Linked DNA regions of Homo sapiens: all the other regions are linked to region 1. Evidence: fine-mapped expression QTL. A gene starts in region 1. Each other region holds a variant in brackets. All regions are shown on one strand. Distances are between the middles of the regions.

What was found.
Region 2: its variant is fine-mapped to the expression of SFXN5 in esophagus mucosa (GTEx, PIP above 0.99).
Region 3: its variant is fine-mapped to the expression of SFXN5 in tibial nerve (GTEx, PIP above 0.99).
Region 4: its variant is fine-mapped to the expression of SFXN5 in unexposed skin (GTEx, PIP above 0.99).

Annotation. Positions count from the first base shown.
Region 1 is chr2:73,067,913-73,073,682 of GRCh38, reverse strand. SFXN5 (sideroflexin 5) reads left to right here and starts at 1,971. Exons shown (of 14, transcript NM_144579.3): 1 at 1,971-2,079. The coding sequence starts at 1,978. It overlaps RAB11FIP5 (RAB11 family interacting protein 5), which reads left to right. Exons shown (of 6, transcript NM_001371272.1): 6 at 1-301. RefSeq lists enhancers at 1,373-1,852, 2,053-2,102 and a silencer at 2,243-3,032.
Region 2 is chr2:73,032,193-73,037,983 of GRCh38, reverse strand. All of the region lies in intron 3 of SFXN5 (sideroflexin 5), which reads left to right. Among named protein-coding and RNA genes, the nearest start is that of SFXN5, 37 kb to the left of the region's middle. RefSeq lists an enhancer at 475-1,360. The variant C/T (reference allele first, on the strand shown) is at 3,469.
Region 3 is chr2:72,986,797-72,992,587 of GRCh38, reverse strand. It overlaps SFXN5 (sideroflexin 5), which reads left to right. Exons shown (of 14, transcript NM_144579.3): 10 at 4,240-4,330. Among named protein-coding and RNA genes, the nearest start is that of EMX1, 72 kb to the right of the region's middle. RefSeq lists a silencer at 3,289-3,488. The variant A/G (reference allele first, on the strand shown) is at 2,695.
Region 4 is chr2:72,995,125-73,000,915 of GRCh38, reverse strand. It overlaps SFXN5 (sideroflexin 5), which reads left to right. Exons shown (of 14, transcript NM_144579.3): 8 at 429-485; 9 at 1,902-1,967. Among named protein-coding and RNA genes, the nearest start is that of SFXN5, 74 kb to the left of the region's middle. The variant C/G (reference allele first, on the strand shown) is at 2,479.

The DNA of each region.
Region 1 (5,770 bases):
GTCACCCCCCCTACTGGGGATTCCTCTGGGCTTTATTCACTCCCAGCCCTGGCCCTGACCTTTGTGGGCCTCCCTAATGCCCAGGGCATGGATGGCTTCAGAGGAGTTTTTGAATCGAAGCCCAGGGTCCTTGTTGATGTTTCTTCTCCTAGCCACACTTGGAGGAAAGTTGCAGGTGGGTTGGGCAGGGAGCAGGCATGGTTCTGCTTTGCTGTTTGTCTTCCTAGTTAAGGCTCTTTATAAAGAGCTTGTTCTTCATGTTTTAAGCACTTTATGAAGAATAAAACATTCATGTACTGCAGGTGGCTCTGTTGTGTTCCTGTTTTGGAATGAACAGTTACAGGAGGCTGCTGTGGGAGAAAGCACCTTAAATCAAGGTGATGGGATTCTTGGATGACACTGTCCCTGCCCCTTATAAGGGGGCAGCAGCACAGTGTTGCCCAGCAGCCTGAACTTAGTCTTTTCTGACTCCCAGGGTACCCACATTTATTGCGCACCTAAGATGGGCCCATTTATTGGTAATACAGAGGGTAAGAAATGGATTCCTATTCTCAAGTTGCATGGTCTAGCAGGGGAAGATAAGATACAAATCCAAGATACAAATAGTTCTTCATGGCTAGATAGAATCTCTAAGATAAGATACAAATCCAAGATACAAATTGTTCTTCGTGGCTAGCTAGAATCTCCCCCTAGCTTTATGAAAAGTGTTTCTTGTGGTTCAACTACTAGAGGATGAAAAACTTTGACTGCTACAGCTCATGTAGTGTCCAGAAACACTGGCAGACATGAGCCAACCCTGCACTCCACCACGAGACTAATGAGACCCAAAGTGGAGTTCCCTAGAAGACCAAATATTTCTACTGTCATCTTGGGCAAAACAGGCAGCTCCCGAAGTCTGGCTCACTGACCAGGTAATTCAGCTGGGAATCTTCAGCTAATCCATTCTACAACTGTATGTGTTTATTATCCATACTGATCCTTACTCCACAATCTGTAATACTCCCCCTTACCTAACACCCTCCCCACCCACCCTAGTCCCAAGTTCTCCTCCTGCCCAGGAATTAGGCCCAGGAGGGATCTTCCTTGGTTGGCCAGACAAGGTGAAAGCTGCCAGGGCTCTTAATCCCCCACTGATGAACTCACAGCCAACACTTATTTGAGTCTCTACTGTGAGCCCTTTTATGTCTGGCTCTGAAAACTGAAGTGAATCAAAAAGTCATAGCCCCTGCCCTGTGAACTTTACAGTAAGAAAGACTGTCCAGAACAGTAAGTAGTTGTGAGTGCAAAAGAGAAGTGCTGGGTGCCACGGAGCCTCTGTGGGATTTTGTGCAAGCAGAGTGATGGACTGGGAAATGCAATGTTTAGGCTAAAGCCAGAAAGCCAGCATCAGGCGAAGATTTAGTCTTCCGGGTACAGAATGTTCAGGGGTCGGGAGGCGGGCAGGCCCCAGCATGCTCCAGGAACTGAGTGTCAGGGCAGCCGGAGAGCACAGGACGAGTGGGCAGGGTGGCGACGGAGGAAAGTACGAGAAGGTCCGCAGTGCAACTCCTTGGAGAAAGCCTTCCGAGGTTAACCCTACTCCGCCTGGAGTCTTTGCCCATCTGGTCCCAGGTTCCCCCTTGAATGGGACCCTTCTGCGCTGCCTGGCCCCAGGAGCGACGCCCACGGCAGCAACTCTAACTTCTGGGGGCAACTAAGCAGCGAGGGGTGGCCCGTGGTCGTCGTACAGGAACACCTTTCCTGGACTGCCGACCTTGCACCTTGCAACGCGGACAGCGGGCACCGAGACCTCTCCGGACGGCCGCAACTCTCCGCAGTCTACGGTTGTAAGCGCCGCGACGCGAAAAACTACACTCCCCACAACGCCTTGCGCCTCCCGCTCGCTGCGGTTGATTAGGGCCAATCGGGAGAGGCAGCTGTGGCGGGGGCCGAGGAGGGACATTTTAAAAGGGCCGGAGATTGCGGGCGTCAGTGGCCATGGCGGATACAGCGACTACAGCATCGGCGGCGGCGGCTAGTGCCGCTAGCGCCTCGAGCGATGCACCTCCTTTCCAACTGGGCAAACCCCGCTTCCAGCAGGTGAGGACCGGGCTGTGGTCTGCGGGCCGGCGGGTGGCAAAGAGAGGACGAGCAAACTCCCCTCCAAAGTCCCCTTCCGCCCAAGGGTCTCCCACCCGCGGCCAGCGGAGCCTGCAGCTAGCGCCAGGGGGGGAACCTCGGTCACAGTCACCCTTTTCCCATTGGTCAACGGGGCGGGCGCGGACTCCCATCTTGGCTTCCTATTGGCCCTTGGCGCCGTCACTCCCCGACTGCCCGCGCCCTCTAGCCTTTCCCGCCCGCGGCGCCCTGTGATTGGCCACCGGCGGCTGCGGTCAAGGTCCCGAGCGCCCGGCTTCGAGCGGCTGCTCAGGGTCGCTCCGGGTTGTGCAGCTGCCCGCCCGGGACGCAAAGTTCTAGTCTGGCCCTGGATGGGAAGTTGGCGTGGCCGGGATGCCTTCTAACTTTTTCCCCCGGTGGGGACTGACGTTCCTTTCGAGCTGCTGGCGGTGCCGCCGGGCAGCGTCGCGCCCCGCGGTCACTCCCCAGCCCTGGCCCCCAAGCCGGGCTCGGCGCGCGCAGCAGGTTGAGGGGGCGAGTGCCGAGGCGAGCGGCGGTCCGGCGTCCCCCGTCCCTGCTCTCCATCTCGGGCTGAGGATTCGCTGACGCAGCAAGCCGGCCGATGCCCTGAGGGGACGCAGCCAGGGCGTGCGGGGGAAACGCTGTGTCATCCCCTGGGGCCGTCGTCCCTCCGAGGGGCTGCCGCCTGGGAACCCCCCCCCAGCCTCTTCCTCGCTGTGTTCTCCGCGGAGGGTCTCCCGCGCCCGGGCCCCCGCGCCGCCGGGGACTGGCTCTGGGCACACCCGCTCAGGCTCTTCGGGGCACGGCGACAGGGGTCCTTTCCCTCCGGGACCTCCTCTGGGGCGTCGCCGACTCGGCCCTAGACTGCGGAGGCGGGGGTGGAACGCGGAGCCCGGGCGCCTGGTTGGGCCCGGAGACCGGAGCCGGGGAGGGGCCGCTCCCGCGCCGCAGACCCTCGGGCTCCCGCGCCTCCCGCACCAATGAGACGGAATTTATTAGGAAACAGGCAGAGAGACCGCTGAAGTGAACCGGGGCTTGCCAGGGGTGGGCGGCAGCCGAGGCGGCCAGAAAAGAACTTTGAAGGAAGAAAGGAAATTGTGCTAAGGTCGGTGCGGTGGCTTTTTTTTTCTTTTTTTGTTGTTGTGGTGGAAGGGGACTGGTTCCAGCAAGGGGGTGCCCCGAGCTTTGCTGATAATTAGGGAACTTGGCTCCTGAGCCGTCTGAAAAAAATGTCCCCAGTGTTTCTTAACAGGACTTTAATTCCTTTTAAAAGTAGGCCATCTCAGCATGTAGGTATCCGAGGCGAGACTGGCATCTTCCTTCCAGTGTAGGAGGCCATCTAGGGCGAGAGTGTCGGGGTGTCCCTGCCTGGACTTGAGTGACCTTATTACATTGCCTGTCCCCGCTCCCACCCCCATTCTGCTCGTTCTTAAAGGCTCAGTCGGGCCTGCCTCTCTGGCAAACACTTGCTCCCTTCTTCTCTGGTCCCATCAGATCGCAGGCTTCCTCCTGCACATCTCTTTGGCCACCTGAGTCAGATCCTCATAGCTCTCCATACAGTCTGCCCTGTGGTCTTCTAAATGTTTGCTGTGTGACGACTTGGTTTCCTCAAACCCCCTGTAGGCCTTTTGCAAGAAGGGGCTGATCTTGCCCTTCTCTGCCTCTGTCTTACCCTGATGGAGACAGGTTAGGCATATAGTAATGTGCCGAGTAAAAGATTTGTGTTTCCTTTTTTTTTTTCTTTTTCTTTTTGTCCTGGTGTCTGTTATCTGTATGTGGCACTAGGGACATTCAGTGACCTAACAGACATTTATCAAATACGTCTTAGTGGCTTATATGACTGAGCCCTGTGCTGTGAGCACTGCTCTAGAGCCATAGATAAACATTTTAGGCTACCCTGTTCCTGCAGCCATAGCGGTACTTCTTTTTGGCACTGCTCTTGAAGGCAGTAAAAGTGTTTGTTGTATGCACTTTTGAAGCTCCCCTCCTCCAGCATAGTGGCCTGCATAAAGCACGTTGCATGTGATTCATCCATGTTAAGGATCTTCTCTTTCCTCCATATCTGCTCCTCCCGCATGGCTCCCTGGCTCTGCAAACAGCCCAACTTGCCACCCAATCAATGCAGCCAGAAACCTGGGAGCCGCCTGTGTTCTTTCCTTCTTCTCCCTCACCCTTTAAATGCAACCAGAGGCCCAGTGATCTTACCTCTTACACAGCTCTCAAGTCCACCCATCTCTACTGCCAGAATCCTAGACCAAGCCCCCATCGTCTATTTCCTGGGTCACTGCAGTAGCCTCACAACAGGTCTCCCTGCTTCCACTCTGGCCCTCTTCCAGTCCTTCCTCTTTCTGCAAGTCAGAGTCCCAACAGTGCAGATCTGATCAAGGGACTCCCTACGCCCTTGTAGATTTAAATACCCTCCAATGGCTTCCCCTGCTTCTGAGATAAAGACCTCACTTCTGAAGGGGCCCCCAAAGTATGCATGGCCCACCCCACTGACTACTTCTTCCTTGAATCCCACCACCCACCCACCCACACTTCGCACCCTCCTTCACATCACACTGGCTGCTTTTCAGCCTCTGAACCCACCACGTTCCCTCCCACCACTGGGCCATCTGCTTGGAACATCACCTCTTCCTCTACCCCCAACTCTTGTTCCCATTCTTCCTCATCCCTGGTGTATCCATGAAGCATCACTTTCTTGGAGAAGCCTCCTGCACTCCCAGGTTGGATTTTTGAGTGTTCGCTTACTGCAAAGTACCTTTCTCGGTGTATACATTGATTTGTGATGAGTATTTCTTTGCCATCTGTGTCTCTCTGTTGACTATGGACTTTGCAGAAGTGGGGGCTGTGCCTGTCTTTACTCCCTGTTGACTCTCCAAGGCTCAGCACAGTGCCTGGCAGTTAAGAGGTGCTTAATGAAGATTTGTTATATACATGAATATCCTGGAGACAATTCAGTAGGGCTTTGCGGACTTGAATTAAATTGACTTGTAAGGTTGTGACTGGGGAGGTGGACCAACTTTTCTCCAAATTGTCCCTTAGGGATCTTACAAAATTGCAAGTGGTGTCATGTTTGACAGTGTAAGGTTCATCAGTGCTGAGACATCCCAGAGTTGGGGTGTCTCTAAGGAGGTGAGTCTAAAGACACAAAGGTTGGCTACATATGTACTGGGTTGATGAGCTCCTTTAGGGCCCAGCCCACATCTCTGTGTCCTGCCCTGGCATGTAATAGTTGTGTAATATATATGCTCATAGTACCTTGTGCTGGCCTGACAGAAGCCTGCTTCAAGGTGGTTGATAATCCAGGGTTCATTCCCAGCACCCATGCCAGGGACATGACCCTTATTCCCCAATTAATCTCACCGCTTTCTGCAGGATTTGTTACCAAGGTCTTTCCTTATTCCCTGGAGTCGCTCTAGAACTCCTCTTTATTCCCTCAAGTGTCTCCCTGTGCAAGAGGACGGGCAGAAAGAGGGTGGAGGGTGTGGAGGGTCAGAGTGTGAAGAAAGGGTGATGAGTGTTGGTGGTCTGTGACCATCTTTCTCCCCATAAGATGGTGACGATAGCCAAGCATCATTCCAGCCTTTTTGTGTATTGACTTACTGAATTTTCACAACAACCCTGTGAAGCAGGTGCAATGATCTCCAAT
Region 2 (5,791 bases), 36 kb after region 1:
TTTGAGTTTCTTTTTGTTTTCCTGAAATTTTCCTTTCTGGGGCCTACCTCCGAGTTCCAGGTCTTCCTTTTTCTTGGTATATTTCATCATTTTGGTGGAACACCTCTTCTCGTAGCTTCCTGAAAAAGGGTAAATGAGAAGAAAGTTTTGAGTCTTTTTATGTCTGAAAAATTATAATTCTGCACTCAGCCTTAATTGACAGTTTGGCTGAGGAGAAAATTCTAGGTTGACAATCATTTTCCTTCAGATTTTTGAAGACCATTGCGCTATTTTCTTCTGGGTTCCAATATAGCTGTTGAAAAACCTGATGCCGTTTCATTCCTGATTCTTTGCGGTCTGTTTTCTTTCTTTGGAAATATTTAGGATCTTCTCTTTATCTGTGAAATTTGTTTCTGAAATTCCACAATGCTGTTTCTTTTAAAATTTATCATTTTGGATTCTTCATTACCCCTTTCAATCTGAAGACTCCTGTCTTCAGCTCTGGCAAAATTTTTAATTGCTTTCATCACTTTTTCTCATTCTGGAACTTCTGTTAGTCAAATATTAGCCATCATAGGCTGACACGTAGGTTTTCTCACCTTTTTTCTCTTCTATCCATCTCTATGGGCCAGAAGCGAGGGTAGGGCCTGGGGGATAGAGCAGGTAGGAAGCTGGATGAAGTTCCTGTCTACACCACCAGAAACCAGGCAGTGACAGTGAAAGCACATGATACCATGGGAGAGCCGTGGAAGGGGTGACCCTCCCAGACTGAGGGCATCTGGAAGAGATTTCTCCCCTGAGATATGAGGGCTGACAGGGCTGGTGAAGAGCAGGTGGGGGTGGTCCAGGCAAGGAGGTGCACACTGTGCTGGAGATCGAGGGAGCAAGACCCTACAGAAGGAGGGAATGGGCGAATGTGCTAGACTGGAGCATGGTGATGGGAATAGAGGGCAAATGCATGAGCGGAAGCAGCACCTTGGCCAGATGCCCCTGTGCAGGGCCCTGGGAGAGTGACAGACCCGCAGTGCCTGCTTACATGGGGCCCATCTGAAGGCGTGTGCACTGCGTGCTGAGTCATGGGCAGCCGTCAGCCGGGAGGGCAGGCTGCGATCTCCTCTTCCCTGAGCAATGGGACTTCTCTCTGGCCATGAGCACCTAAGAGCCTGGATGGTGTGACCTGGTACCCCACCCTACTCAGGCCGAAGCAGTCCCCAGCCCTTTTCGTGTTCTTCTGAGACCTGTGAGAGTTGGGTCCTGCCTCTATGGCCTCCTGACCATGTGTTTCCTCCTGGCCCAGGCTCCGCTCTGCCCTTTTCTTGCTGAGGTTGGCCTCTTGGGACCCCTTCCAGCTCCCAGAGTTTGGGGAATGAAGCCACATTTCCTCCTCTTTGCTCCCTTCAGTAGCTTGAAGCTGCCTGTCCTGTTTCCCAGGCCTCCTTTGTTTTCTGTCCTGAAAGCCCCCATGTGCCTCAAGGGAGCTGAGGAGGAGGGGAACTGGGTGGAGGGGCAGCTTGGCACTAACTGTGCTTCCCGATTCTGGCTCATGTTGGTGATGCCTGCAGTGTCCATCTGGTGGCTGGGTAGCACAGTGCTCTAGGTGTGAGCCTGCCACTATGGCCCCCTAGAGGCAGATCCTCCCTCTCCCTCCCTTCCCCCAGCCTCCTGGCTCCCCCAGCACCAGCTCTCACAAATGCTTCCCTCCCTGGGCTTCAGTCAGCCAATCTACACCTTCCTCTGGCCTCTGCAGACACAGGAGCAGAGGGGATAAGTGGTGACATGGCAGCTCAGGGCTTGGGGGGCTTGGCAATCCATAGTTAACAGTCACTGTTCCTGGCCCAGGCTGGCCCTGCTCATCTGAAGCGGCCCGGGTGGTTCTTGTTCTCAGTCTGGACAGTGGCCTCACCTGCACCTGGGCTCTGCGCCTGCTCTCATGCCTTTGCAGGTGTGTGGGCCAGAAGCCTGCAACTGGGTCCTGAGGCCTGCAGGCCTGTCCTGGTGTTGTGGGCAGTGCTGGTTAACTTGTGACACTCTCTTTTTTTACCCAGTTTGTCATCTAACCTGACCTCCAGGTACAACACCTCACCAGTGGGTATGCGCAAATGTATTGATTGTTTGTTTGCTCCTGATGGCCTTGGTTTGGTCTTCTGTTGTGGGTGGCTGCTCTCTCCTCCAGGGACCGTTACCTTGTTTAAAGGTTGCTATACCAGCCAAGCGTGGTGTCTCACACCTGTAATCCCAGCACTTTGGGAGGCCAAGACAGGTGGATCACCTAAAGTCAGGAGTTCGAGACCAGCCTGACCAATATGGTGAAACCCCATCTCTACCAAAAATACAAAAATTAGCCAGGCATGGTGGCATGCACCTGTAGTCCCAGCTACTCAGGAGGCTGAGACAGGAGAATCGCTTGAACCCAGGAGGTGGAGGTTGCAGTGAGCCGAGATCACAGCACTGCACTCCAGCCTGGGTGACAGAGTGAGACTCGGTCTCAAAAAAAAAAAAAAAAAAAAAAAAGATTGCGATACCAATGAATCACTGGTTCTGAGGACAAAATAAAAATGAGTATAATTTAACTTTTGGGTTTAGCAGGTGAAAATTTGAAGAGCTAGTAACCGTAATAAGGACTGTAGCTATCAGTTAAAAAAACAAAACCATGGTATACAAAAATGTAAGCATAGACACAGCCATTAAGTTTCTGAATGTTGACTCTGATCTGTACACTTGTATATGCTGGGGCTTTGCCAGAATGATTTGGTGTGGATGGAGGAGGTGGGTGGGGCTAAATATGGAAGACCCCTCCCCATGGTGAGCCACCGCTCGCTGCATGCTTACGAAGTGGCAGGTATTGCACCATAAGTACTAGCGCTTTCCACATATTATCTCAGCTAATCTTCACATAAACTTGTCAGTAGGTACCTGTATCAACCCAATTTTCCAGTGAGACTCAGAGAGGTTGCATTATTTTCCTAAGGTCACATAGCTAGTATGTGGTGGGGCAGGGATCTGACACTGGGCCTCTTAGATCTAATGGGAGAGACATCTTCTGTAAGTGACAGAGACAGAGAGAAGAGACAAGAAAGAGAAAGCTGGGAAGGAAGTTGGAGGTTACAGGCCAGATTGAGAAAGTCTTTGAAAACCAGGCAGAGATGCTGGATGCATTGTGTGGGGTAAGAGGAAGCTACTGAAAGCTATTGAGCAAGGGAGTAGCACGACAGTGGTATTGTGGTAGGATCAGTCAGTGGCAGTGCCAGAGTGCACTGGGGAGGAATAAGTGCTATTACGGAAATCAGCTCGGAAGCAACTGGAGTGATGGGGAGTGTGGGGAGCAGGTTACTGGGAACCACTGTAGCTCCTGAGTGGCTGGGCTTGTCCATCATTCAACATTCCCCAGAGGTTGGGAACCAGCCAACCTTTCCTAAGTGCCTACCCTGCACCCAGGGTAATGAATGTATGGATTGCTCAGAGCCCCCATGCAGGATGGATTTCTGTCTG[C/T]GACCTGCCTAGGAGAAAGAGCTGCTGGGATGCAAGAGATCCTGCAAGTCTTCTCTGGCAGGAAGGCAATGGGGTCAGCTGTGTTTGGGCTTTGCTGAAAATAACAGAGCAAATACCAGAGGCAGGCTTAAAAATACTTGTGCCCCAAGTCTTCTGTGGGCGTCAGCAGGTTTGTCAGATGCCGAAGGGAAGGCTTGGCTGACCCACTAGTCTTACCCTGACTCCTAGCATCAAGCTCTGGGGATCCTGGTCAGCACCCTGCCCCTCTGGGCCAGGCCCAGCATGGCCCTAACTGGTAGCACAGAACAGGCAAGTGATCAGTAGGAGGTGAGTCATTTGTATGATGTGCTAGGTGTCGTACTGAGTGCTGTAGATGCATTTGTGGGCTGGGTCCCTGCAGTGGCCTCCTGGATGATCTGCCTATACTACCTGGGCTCCTCTGTCCATTGCTGATACAGCACACAGAGTGACCTGTGAAATTATACAGGACATTGTTTGTTCCTCTGCTCCAGGGTTTCTCAGACTTGGCACGATTGGCATTTGGAGCCAGATTATTCTTTTTTGCGAGGGCTGTCCAGTGTACTGAGGGTGTTTAGCAACCTGCCTGGCTGTGACCCAGTAGATGCCATTAGCTTCCCCTCCCCAGTCATGACAATCAAAAATGTTTTCTGATGTTGCCAAATGTCCCCTGGGTGCAAAATCCACCTCCTAGTTGAGAACCACTGCTCTAATAGAAACTATAGTGTTCCTCTTTTGCACTTAGAGTAAAAGCCATAGTCCTTAACCTGGCCTGCAAAGCCCCCAGTCCTCTCTGATCTTGTCTCCTACTGCTCTCCCCTATTTGGTCCACTGCAGTCACACTGGTCTCCTTGCTGTCTCTCAAACATACCAGACAGGCCCACTTCTGCCTCAGGGCCTTTGCACTGGCTGTTCTGTCTACCAGAGCAATCTCCCACTAGATAGCTGCATGACTCATTCTCTCCTTCAAGTGTTTCCTCCAATATCACCTCAGTGAGACCCACCCTGACTATCTTACTTATGTCTGTAATCTCCATCTCTGCCACCTGCTCACACTTGCTATCCTCTTGTCCTGGTCTATTTTCCCTAGTTTCCTGAAGCACTTTTCCTTCTAACATATCAGAAAATGTGCTTATTTATTGTTTGTGTTGCTTATCGTTTGTCTGTCTGTGCAACCCTCTAAACTCAACAAAAGCAGAGATTTTGGCCTGTTTTTGTCACTGATGTGTCCTTAGCACCTAGAGCAGTGTTCAGCACATAGTAGATGCTCAATAAATATTTGTTAAATAAGTAAATTTGTTAAATTAATTATTAATTTTCACAATAACCTTGAAAATATTCACATCCTCATATTACAAATGAGGAAGAGGAGGCTCAGAAAGATTAAGCGTATTGCCCTAAATCACATAGCCAGCAAGCGGGAGATCTAGAATTTAAACCCAGGTCTGGATAGAAACAAACTGCGTGTATAGGGAAGTTGCAACTGCTGCTGTGTGCTATGCTGCAGAACTAGGCGAAGAGTCCCTCTTCTTTCGTGAGTCTGTAGAATTGGGGGTACCCTCACCTGACATAGACTTGCAATAGGTACATATTACCTGGGAGTAACCATGGCAACAAAATTAATGGTGAGGTATAATGCGATTGGCCCAACTGATAAATTAGGAAGTTTTTTTTGTTTGTTTTATGGAGGCATTCTTTGCCTTACAGAAGGATCCCCTTCAGGCTCTGTTTAATTACCTTCTGGAGGTTGTTTTAAATAGGCTCTGTCTTTGCTGCCTTGGGAGGTTTGGAGAAGCAGCTTGGAAGGAGGCAGAGGGGAAGGGGAGCGAGCCAGATTGGGGGTGGGGCTGGGCTGTTCCTCCTCCCTCTGGGTGTTGGGGGTGTGCCCCGCTCTGCCCGAGAAGGCCAGTTGGTGAGTGTCCTCTGCCCCTCCCTTGGACTCTACACCGAACTTCAGGTAGGTTCAGATGGCACTTCAGCTGAGATGCTGGCTGTTTTTGAAATTAGCCAACTTCTGGGATCTTCCAGCCACCTCTCACCCGGATTGCTTCTCCACACCTGCTCCATGTTCTTATTTACCAAGTTGAGAAATCAAGCAAGGTTCAAAGTCTCATATCCACACTGATTTGTTGTTGGAGCCAGTAAGTCCCAAGGGATCAAAGCTGCATATTTTTATGCTCAGCAGAGGCACAGAGGAGATGGGCTGAGCCCACACAAGATGAGGTCTTAAGCAGGAATTGTAGTTTAAAGTGGAGATGCTTCAGTGGTCTAGTGAGAAGACGTTGAACTCTTGATATCCTAGGAT
Region 3 (5,791 bases), 81 kb after region 1:
GTCTCTGGCATGAGAAGCAGAGCTGGAAATGGGCGAGGAGGCTGGGGTGTGGGTGAGGAAGAACGAGACAACCTTCATTTGGGGTGCGAGAAGCTGGAGTGCCTAGAGCCCTTGGACACAGAGGCATCCTCCAGGCAATGGATATTCAGGCTGCAGTGGGGGCACAGATGCGGGGAGAGGGATGCAGGCATTCTTCCAGCCTCATCCAGTGTCTCCTTGCTGGCCTGTTGTTGGCCCGGAAAGCCCTTGGTACTTAAGGCTACAGCCACCAGCTGTGTAGCTCATGACACTAAAGATTTGGTGTCATGAAGCTCCCACCCCACCCATAGCTCCTGGTGCTGGTCAGCCCTGTTCCCATCTCCGTGGGGACTATCAGGAAGCCGGCCTTCCCTCCTTTTCCCCTGGTCTCCTGTCAGCTGCTCATGGCAAATTCACTGGCCCAGTAGCCAGACCTTGGAGATAGGTGGTCAAGAAGGCCTATTCCCTCCTTCAGGATGTTGCTGATGTCCTGTGGGGCCTGAGCCCTGGTTTTCCAAGAAGCCCTGTCTGCTGGCCATATAAGAAATTCTTGTGCAAAATCCACACCCTGTTTGTTTTCCCCATCTACCAAAATGGAGCTCCTGTTTGGTTAATTTCTATTTTGTGGCTTATTTGGATGCTGTTAAAACAGATCCTGGGGGACCCTCAGCAGTAATTGTTCCACATCTCATTATCTTTCCTGAACCCGATTATTAGCTCTGATTTTTCTGATCGCTAGCTGCTGTTTGTGATGAGCTGTGTGCCATTAATACCAGCTGGTTCCCTTAAACAGGACCCGCCGTGCCAGGGAAAAACGAGCTGGCATTCAGAGCCACCAGCCTCTTGGCTTTTTAATTTTAACGGGCTCTACCAAATGTTCAAGGCCAAAGGGCCCTGAGGAACCAGAACAGACGGGCTCCTAACCCCTGGTCTGCAGCCATCTTGGGTTCCTTCTCAGGCCGTGGCTGTCCTAGGTGCTGGGGCGGTAAGACCTGGGCTGGGGCCTGGGAAGGGGTGAGGGTAAGTGGCCATTTGCCTTTTCCGTGTCCACGCCCTCCCTGCCACTGGGCCCATCACTGGCAAGTGGGCACTGTGACCTCACTGACTCCTCATGAGCTCACAGCTACACACATGCCCAGGTCTCCTCCCTACTTTGCTGGTCCCCAGCCCCTTTCTTGGGCGCAGGCACGTTGGCCATGCTCTCAGAAACATATGTGTGCCGCACTATATGTCACCCCATCCATGCTGGGAGACCCTGGTGACTTTCAGGGAAGGAGAGGCCAGAAGAAACCTGGGACGAGGACACTGTTTTCTCTCTTCGTTCTTCCTCCCTACACTCTGGGCTGTGCCAGGCCTAGCCAGTGGGAAGAATGGCCGACCAGGGAGGGGGAGGCTTTGGAGAGGGGGAGGGAAATGTGATGGTCACCTTTCCTCCTTTCCCTCCCGCTGCTCTCCAGCCCTGCCTACCCCCAAGAGGCTGTCATGGGGAAGGGTCCCAGCCTCTCTGCTCACTTCCGTGAATGGCTCCTGTTCCCCGCCTCTTCCAGCACTTCCTATATCTTCTTAAATTGTCAAGCAGGATTTTGAACCCAGATCTTCTGACTTCTGGCTGCTGGGGGCAGGGATGGTTCAAGGGCCCTATCTTCCCTGCAGGAGCTGCCTTCTGTTTTCCACTCGTTAGGACCCCAGCCCCAAGGTGGCCATTGTCAGGGAGGTGCTTGCTATGCAGATGTGCCGTTCAAACGCCTGGAGATATTAAAGCATCCCTCCCTCAGGTGGAAGACAATGGGAAAGTCATAGCACCCTGGTTAGGAGCAAGGCTTTGGAATTAGCAGGCCCTGCGTTCAAATGCTAGCTTTACTTGCCTCATAATAGATGTCTATCCTTGAGCAAAGTTGTTTAACCTCTCTGGACCTGTCTCTATCTGTGAAAAGGGCCAACATGGTCTATCTAAAAGCCTTGTTGTGGGGATCTCATTAAGATATTTCATGTGAATATGTGCTGAGTGGCCTCACGTAGGAAGTGCTCACTGAGTTCTCCCGAGCCCCCCTCCTCTTCATTGCTACTGCCCGTCTGCGTGTCCTCCAGCTTCCTCCCACACTTTCTCTCAATGCACTTTTTTGGGGGTGAGGGAGGCCATTTCTGAGTCACTCGCTCCTGGACTTGATGAATTCTATTCATGTGGCGGGGGCAGCAGGGCCCAGTATGAGCCGGCAGCTCCCCAGCCCTGCCCACTGTACCACTGAAGTGTGTCCACGCCGTGATGCCCCTGGCTGCCTCCCAGCCTTCCCTCGAGCGAGCTGGGAGGACAAGGATTGGACTCTGAGGATCAGCCTGAGACTTAAGATGGAGGCTGTGTTCCCGAGAGCCCAGGGTGGGCATGCCAGGAAGTACTCTGGCTCCACGGAATGCTGCGCTGCCCCGGGGCTGGCGGACCAGCACTTCCTTGTCTTCCTGGGTCTCACAGTCGCAGCCTGGGCTGGGCTGTTTCTGCCTTGCTGCACCCTGCCCCAACAGCGGCAGGCGCCTGGCAGCCCTGGAGGCCTTCCCAAGGCTCTGCGTCCTCCCCAACCACCCACAACATTAAGGCCAGAGCCAGGCCTGAGGGCACAGGGTGGGCTGCTGAGCCGCCAGGCGTGCCAGACCTCAGAGCAGGCTGCCCCGGCCCGTCAGGCC[A/G]GGAGTCCTGCCACGGCTCCTCCCACGCTTCCCAGAAAAGACAGCACAGGGGCTGGCTTTGGCCTCTGTCTGGGGAAGCAGAGGCCTCTGCAACCCAACTCCTTTTCTGGTTTCATGCATCTTGTCTTTTCTCTCTCCAGGCCTGCACTTGTATGCATTTCTCCACCAGAAAGTCCTTTTCCTCTGCCTAGCCCAACCCCATCTTTCTCTCCTCCGCAAAGCCCCACTCCCAGCCTTTGCCTTTTCCATGCCGTCGTATGTTTGTTGGTTCCTGCATTTATTCCTCAGTCACCAGTTTATTGAGCGTGTACTATGTGCCAGTGAGTGTAGCCCTAAGTGGTGGACATACAAAGATGAAAAAGGTGCAGTCACCCCATCCGGTCCCGTGACATCATGATTATATAGCTTCATTTATTGAGGTCTCTTATATGCCAAGCTCACACCCACCACTTACATACATTCTTATACCAGCCCTGGGGTGTTGTAGGTATTACTATCCCTTTTTACAGATAGGTAAACTGAGACAGAGAAAGATGAAATGACTTACCTGCCTCAGGTCCCACTGCTAGTAAGTGACACTGGAGGTGGAACTCATGGGTGGGCCTGAAAGAACAGGTGTGAACTGAGCGGAGGAGGGAGGCATCCCAGGCACAGGGACCAGCACTGCAAAGGCCCCATGGCTGGAAGGCTCACGGAGGATCTGATGGGCAGCAAACTGGACTCTCGGGGTTGAACTTGGGTTTTTGGGGGAGAGGGGAAGTGAGGTTATGGAGGCCAAGGCTGCTGTGGGAAGGAGATGACACTTTCTCAGACACGTTGGTCATAGAGAGGAGCTGGTGTGGCACACATGAGAAAGCCTGTGCTCTCGAAAGATGAAAGAGCCTAGGAGATGGACTGGAGTGACGAAGACCCCAGGCAGGGGCTGGGGTGGGGTGTCTGGCATCCTGGGCCAGGTGACAGGTATGAAGGCGATGACAGTGAGTCCAGGACATCCGCCTCACCCTCCATCCTGCCCTGAGCTATGCTGCTTAGTCCTGCAGCCTGTGGGCAGGTGTCGGGGTCTCCCTGTCCTGAGCCCTTATGGTCTGGCTGGGCCCACACCTGCATGTACCATGGGGTTTCAGAAAGATGGTGCTTAGGGCTGGGGTGGGAATGAGGCCTTCCTACACTTCATTTATTCATGGAGTATGTATTCTTCTACGAGCAACTGCCACAGCATCCTATCCCTTTTCTCCTCTGCAGTGTGTGTGTATGAGTGTGTAAATGTGTGTGTATGTGTGTGTGTGTGTGTATGTCTCTGATGCTTTACCTCTCTCCCTCTTTCTCATGGGCCAGTTACCTGGGATGACTGGGCAGTGGTACTTTAAGCAGCGACGCTGGAGCTCTGCAACCTCAGGTGACGCTGAGGATTAGGGGTGTGAGGTGCAGTTGTGGGGAAAGATGACATCCCTCACTCTCTGATGTTCCTCCAGTTCTGCCCCCTCCTCCCACAAGCCACTGCAGCATCATGTACTTTTTCTGTGTTTTTATTTTTTTCTTTCAAAGGTGGGCCTTAATGTCCTGGTTCAGAAAGCCAACAAGTTCACCCCAGCCACCCGCCTTCTCATCCAGAGGTTTGTGCCGTTCCCTGCTGTAGGTAAGACCTGCACACCACATAGATGTGTGCTGTGGGTGGGTGTGGGGGACCGCTGGGCTCCCAGGGAGACAGATGACCCTTCCACACCTCTCCTGATGCCCAGGGGGCACCCAGCTGGGAGAATTGGTGTAATATGTTTAGCTAAAAGACAAGACCATGGGGTCCCACTGACCAGCTCTGTGCTGAGATTCTGCTTTCAGCATAGGGGTTCTTAGGCTGCAGTCCCAGACCCCCAAGGGGTCAGTAGACAGAATGCAGCGGATCCTGTGAGCTTGGTCAGGGAAAAGATTTACATTAACCTCTAACTGCATTTTAACATTTCCTTCCGTTACGAATGCAGGCAGCAAACCACAGTCAGAAGCAGGACCTGTGACTTTGTCACCAGTAGAAATCACAGATGTTTTCATGGCACATTACAGTTGTTACAGAGGTCTTAAAATATTATTTATGCTCAACACTAATTCATATTTTCTTTCTTTTTTCTTTTTCTTTGTTTTTCTTTGAGTCAGAGTTTCACTCTTGTCACTCAGGCTGGAGTATGGTGGTGCAATCTCGGCTCACTGCAACCTCCACCTCCCAGCTTCAAGCAATTCTCCTGCCTCAGGCTCCCAAGTAGCTGGGATTACAGGCATGCGCCACCATGCCCATCTAATTTTGCATTTTTAGTAGAGATGGGGTTTCACCATGTTGGCCAGGCTGGTCTCGAACTCCTAACCTCATGATCCACCTGCCTCACCCTCCCAAAGTGCTGGGATTACAGACGTGAGCCACCATGCCCGGTCACTAATTCATATTTAATACATCAACTGATAGATCTTGTTTTTAATTCATTAGTTAAAAAGCACATCTAGGCTGGGTGTGGTAGCTCATGCCTGTAATCCCAGCACTTTGGGAGGCCGAGGTAGGCGGATCATGAGGTCAGGAGATCAAGACCATCCTTGCCAACATGGTGAAACCCCATCTCTACTAAACATAGAAAAATTAGCTGGGTGTGGTGGTGCATGCCTGTAATCCCAGCTACTCAGGCCGAGGCAGGAGAATGGCTTGAACCAGGGAGTTGGAGGTTGCAGTGAGCCAAGATCACGCACTCCAGCCTGGTGACAGAGTGAGACTCCGTCTCAAAAACAAAACAAAACAAAAAAAACCCCAAAAAACATCTATTACTATATCACAATATTTTGGTAATTTCAGGATGATCCCTTTGTGATCCTATGTGTTTTGTTTTATGCATTTAGAAACATTATTCTGAGAGGGGTCCATAGGCCTCACTAGACTACCAGAGTGGTTCGTGGTACAAAAGAAGCCTGCAAGCTTCTGCTAGTCTAGGTTTCAAGCCTTTGGGTATTGTGAGCCTCTAGGTTTCAGAGGCCTTGGCTCTACGCAGGTGATTGTGGGCGCACAGGTATATGTGGAGGGGATTTCAGCTGCGTCTTTGCTGAACTTGGAGTCTATGAGCTCACC
Region 4 (5,791 bases), 73 kb after region 1:
GGTGCAGGATACTGGACTGGGAGATTTTTGAAAGAATTGTAGGGCTGTCAGTCATTCTAGGCCAACTTTTGTCCAGCAGGTAATATAATAAAGATGGTGTGACAAAGGCAGTGGGGTCTGCAGGGGCAGTGAATGCCATCATTCCAAGAGAGGTGACTGTCTCAGGATCAGGTGGACTACTGGGGTGCGCAGGACCCCATTCAGGAACCGAGAGACTTCCCGAGAGGCAGGGCTTCCAGTGCTAACACCAGCACAGCCCTGGGCAAACCAGGACGGTCAGTCATGCTGACCGGCAGCATGGGCGGCACCATGTGAGCTGGAGACCGCATGCTGTGCCTTTCTGGGGATGTGTGGCCTCCTGGGGTCCAGGCCTGGCTTCCAGGGAGGTGACCACTCCTTCCCTGACTTCTCTCATCATTGCCTTTCAGTGGCTGAACCAGAGCCACAATGCCTGTGTCAACTATGCAAACCGCAATGCGACCAAGGTGAGCATCACTGCCCTCTCCCCAGTGGTGGGGTTCAGGCTAGGGAGGCCCAGTCATCCTCCCTACAGCGTGACATGCCACCATCAGTGGCTGCCTCTTGGTTAAGCATGGCCCTCCTCTAGATATCTTATTTAAAATGCCAGCCCTTCAGGTGGGTGGCCGACTCAGACATGACTCAGCTGAGGTCAGCTGCAGTTTCTGGGCCAGGAGCCCTCTGGGGAGGGGCTGTTTACATGAAGTGAAGAAGGCCCATTAAATGGGAGCAGTGCAAGGGATGAGTTCGGCTGGCTTTCAGATTCTTCTTGGGTAGCTCTTACATTTGGGTTTTGGATCATGATGGTATCAGCTACTTGGGGGCAAAATTCCCATAAAGCTTCCTCCAAAATTTCTGGAAGCTGCCTTAGCGCTCCCAGGTCCCGACTGCTGGCCACAAGCTGAAGGGCTGCTCCTGAGTGGGGAGGGTCCAGGGCTGGTAACTCCCCCCCAGAGCCCCTGCACTCCTTGGAGAGCTTGTGGTGGAGGCCCAGTCACCCTTCTGTTGTCCAGGAAGGGCTGCTGGGCCCCTGCTTTGCTGGCAAGGCCACCTCTCCCCAACTTCAATTCAAAGGCAAAGAAGGCAGGATGCATCTAAGTCCCCTTTGGGGGCCTGTCAGTTTGGGGTAGAGGAGAGTCCTAACATTTGCTCACCTTGGGGGAGAGGAGGGGAATAGGAGCTGGCCTGGGCCATAGGAATTGAGAGGCCTGATATGCTGTGGCTGCCCCCTGACATCTAAACCTCCACCCCAAGTCTCTCTCATAGGCTTCACATATGGCCATCTCTGCTTGGATGACTCCCTTTATCTTAAACCAGACACTTCTAGACCTGCAGTTGTAGCACAGGGCAAGTTCCTTAGCTTTTTCTTAATTGTCTGTGTTGGAACTTGGGGTATATTATTCTCTAGAGATATTGGGCAGCTATCATCTGTTGACATGGGAGCCCAGCTGTTCCATGGGCTGGCAAGGCCTGTGAGAGCCTTGACACTGGCATTTCCACCTAGAAAGCGCTCCAGATGCCAAATGGCCCCCTTGAAACATTTAGCCTCTAAACTGAAGACTGCTTGCCCCAGCCTTCAATGGTCCATGTTAGCCTTGCTGTTCTCCACCTCCACCCAGCACTGTCTGCCAGTGACCTTTCTAGAACAGGGCAGGAGTGAAGTGGGCCCTTCAGTATCTCCCTGGATACTGGTGATTTATATTTCTGCATTGGGAACTGAGCTGAGGGTGGCCTGATCCCTTTGAGTCCTGAGGGGCCTCTTCCTTCTACCCACTTTCCAGGCTGGTGGGCAGGATGCTTCTTGCTGGCTGGGACAGCTTACAAGGGGAAGTATGGGAGCTTTGGGCACCCAGCAGGCCTGAAATTCTGCCTCTGTTTTCCAGCCTTCACCTGCATCCAAGTTCATCCAGGGATACCTGGGAGCTGTCATCAGCGCCGTCTCCATTGCTGTGAGTACTCCCTCCCCTGCTCCTTCTTGGCTCTGCTGCTCTGGGGCCACCCCGCTCAGCATTGCAGGTGGATGCTTGTCTGAGGGCCAGGCCAGGCAAGGATTTGGGAGACAGGTTTCTGTGGGTGGAGGAGTCAGGACAGGCTTTCCAAGCCGAGAAGAGGCTCCAGTAGACAGAGCACAACCTGGTGCTCCCTGTAATGGAGAGCAGGTGGGGAGGTGAGGTTGTGCCTGGGGGCACTGAGGCAGGACATCTGTCTTGAGTGGGGCTGCGGTTGCCCAGCACTCTGCTCGGAAGAGCTGCTCCTCATGCTCGGTAACGTGGCTGGAGCGAGCGGGGTGGGGGGATGCCTCTGAATGACTCTGCAAGGCCTGCCCATGTGCCTGCTCCCCTGAGCTCTTGCTCAGCTGCCGGGGCACTGCTTTTCCCTCTCTATGGCCTTACTGGTGTCACACGTCCAGCTCTTCCTGAAGACCTGTCAGTGCCCGAAGCCAGGGGCGTTAGGCTCACT[C/G]TGAGTCTCCACAGTACTTTGAGGCCAGAGCAGCTACTCAGTAGGGGAGGTTCAGAGACTGAGCGTGAGGGTACGGCAGGTGTGGCTCCCTGCTTCCCAGAGGAGGCCAGGGGCAAGTGACACAGTCAGGGCCCTGGGCCAGAGCCAGAGTGGACGCTCAAGCTGCCAGGACCTTCTGCATGCTTGTCCCACCCCTGAGCCCGCCCCTGTACCTACGTCTGGCTGTCTCTGGATCCCCACTAGGATGGCCTTCTATAGCCGACTCCAGAGGGCGAAGGGCCCCTTCACAACTCTGTCATTTCATCCATTACACAATACATTAATGTAACTGGTAAGAAAAAAAAAATTAGAAAATGAAAACCAAACAACATTCACATAGCTGAGCACAGTGGGGCACACCTGTAGTCCCAGCTACTCAGGAGGCTGAGGTAGGAGGATCATTGAGCCCAGGTGTTGGAGTCTGTAGTGTGCTATGATTGCAGCTGTGAACAGCCACTGCACTCCAACCTGGGCAACATAGCAAGACCCCATTTAAAAAAACAAAAGGCCGGGTGCAGTGGCTCACGCCTGTAATCCCAACACTTTGGAAGGCCAAGGCGGGAAGATCACCTGAGATCAGGAGTTCAAGACCAGCCTGGCCAACATGGTGAAACCCCTGTCTCTACTAAAAAAAATACAAAAATTAGTCTGCATGGTGGTGGGCACCTGTAATCCTAGCTCCTTGGGAGGCTGAGGCAGGAGAATCGCTTGAACCTGGGAGGCAGAAGTTGCAGTGAGCCGAGATCACGCCACTGCACTCCAGCCTGGGCGACAGAGTGAGACTCCATCTCCAGAAAAAAAAAAAATAAATAAATAATAAAAAATTTAAGAAATTAAAAAACCCCAAAACCATTCAGCTGGGCAAGCTGGTGTGCCCCTGTAATCCCAGCTACTCAGGAGGCTGAGTTGGGAGGATTGCTTATGGCCATGTTGGGCAGCATAGCAAGATCTTATCTCTAATGAAAAAGAAAACATTCACATATAATGAAGAATTCACATACAATAACCTTTTGGTAAAACCCCCTTTGCTCATCTTTCCAGTGCCATTAAGTAAATACTGTATAATAACTGTTCACGGCTGTATAATTACCCATTGTACCATACGCCACAATTTAATTCACCATTCTTCTAAAGGAGGGACTTGGGGTTGTCCTGAAATGGCCTCATTTATTTCACTCCCACATAGACCAAGTCATCTCCAAATAGCTGTGAAGTGGGATGTCCCATTTCATGCCCAAGATCTCTTTCCCAAATCCTTATGTCTTCACAAAAGCAAGAAGTGAGACATTCAGGTGGCTCACCAAGAGACTGCTGACCTGCCACCCAGCTTGTCCTGCAGCCCAGCAGGAGACTTCATTTGGGAGTCAGACAAATTGGGGGTCCCTGATACTGGGGACTTGGTGGGTGAAGGCCAAAGGCTCCCCTGAGTGGGAGAAAGAACTCTTGTCACCTCCTCCTTGTTCCTTGTGATGAGAGGAGCTGATGGTCTGCTTAGCTTAGCAGCTCAAAAATCCCCTTCCTTTTTTTGAGACTCAGGGGCAAGGTGAGAGGAGGAGGCTACATAGGGAAGGATGCTGAGTGGCCTTGAATGGAAAGGCCTGAGTGAAGGGGATCATTGTCCTGGTGGACTTCCTTCACCTGCAGGCCTGGGGCTCAGAGAACAAGAATCAGCTTCTCAGCCTGAGTAACATAGCAAAACCCCATCTCTACAAAAAATACAAAAAAAATTAGGTGTGGTGGTGCACACCTGTAGTCCCAGCTACCTGGGAGGCTGAGGTGGGAGAATCATTTGAGCCTGGAAGGTCGAGGCTGCAGTGAGCCACGATTGTGCCCCTGCACTCCAGACTGGGCGACAGAGCAAAACCCTGTCTCAAAAAAAAAAAAAAAAAAACAAAACTCAGCTTTTTCTGAGAGCTCCGAGCCCTCTGTGTGTCCAGTCCTCACTGCCCCACCTGAGGGACCATCAGCCGCTCCGTCCCAACCACTTGCCAGGGCAAACCTAGCACAGATTTGTGGGGTATGGGTTCTGAAGACAGAGTTACTGGGGGACTTGGAGCCCTCTGGGGTTCCCAGAGCTGAGCTCTTGCTGGGCAGGGGCTGGGGCCTCACGCGGGGCTGTGCCTGTGCTGGGGACTCCCTCCTTTCTCCTCCCTGTGAGCTCCAGCACCCCTCGAAAGGCTTTCCCCAACCATTCCAGCCCATAGCACTCTCCCTCCTCACAAGTCCTGGAAACTCCTGTCCTCCCCACTCACACTCAGTCGCACTGTGTCCCTGTCCCCTTAGTGTTCTGCAGTCTGAGCCTCATCCCCACTGGATTACAAGTTAACCAGGGACGGGCACCATGGCTTCTCCCCCATGGAGAGGAGCACAGGGCACTGCCCCATAAATACTTATTAATTAGGCCACTGATTGATCGCTGGCCTTGAGGCCCCTCCGATCTGCGAGTCCTAGTGGTGGCGGCGTCCCTCCGCCTGACGTCTTCACACAGTGAGCGTCTAACTCCGGCAGATGGAGTGGAGTTTCTGACTTGGAAAATCGGCAGCTTGCTTGCTTTTCTTTTGTGTGTGTAAGTCACAAAACCTCTGAAGAAAGAGGCTTTATTTTATTTTCCTTTCCCTTGTTCTCTGGAACCCCAGGTCCTACAGCCTCATTAACTGATCTCTGTTTCAATTAGTGACAAATCCCCTCCCAGGGCAAGCCTGTTAGGAGGAGATGACCTGCAAACAAGTGTCACGGCCCCAGTGGTTGGCCCAGCTCTGGCATTAATTAAAACGAGTCCCTACAAGCAGGCGGCATGGATGGGGGCCGACAGGCTGCAAGCAGGTCCTTGGGACAGAGGGCAAACTGGAGTGGAGGCCAGCCTCCTCTGGGGGCCCTGAAGAGCTCCCTGCCCCACTCAGAGGAGCCCTGACCTTGGCCAGCAACCCTGGAGTCAGGGATCCCCAGTTTGCATGCCCCCAAGTGAAGACTCCTGCTGGTTGCAGGACCACCAGGGTGGGATTAGCAGCCTCTTGGTGAACCTTCTAAATAGATTTGGCAATGTCTGGCTGCTTGCTTGAGAATAAAAAAGAAATCCCGTCTTAAGTTATTTTTGAAATCTAACAGTTTGCTGTCTTTTAACAAAGGAAGCCTCTCTCAATCCTCACTGTTTTTTAGTTCAAGAGTTTGCATTAAGCACTTCTGTGGGCGGCCCTCCCTGGGCCCCGGCTACACGAGGGTGAGAGGAAGTAAGAGACATTGACTCCCATCGGGGGACTGTGATGTGCGGGTACTT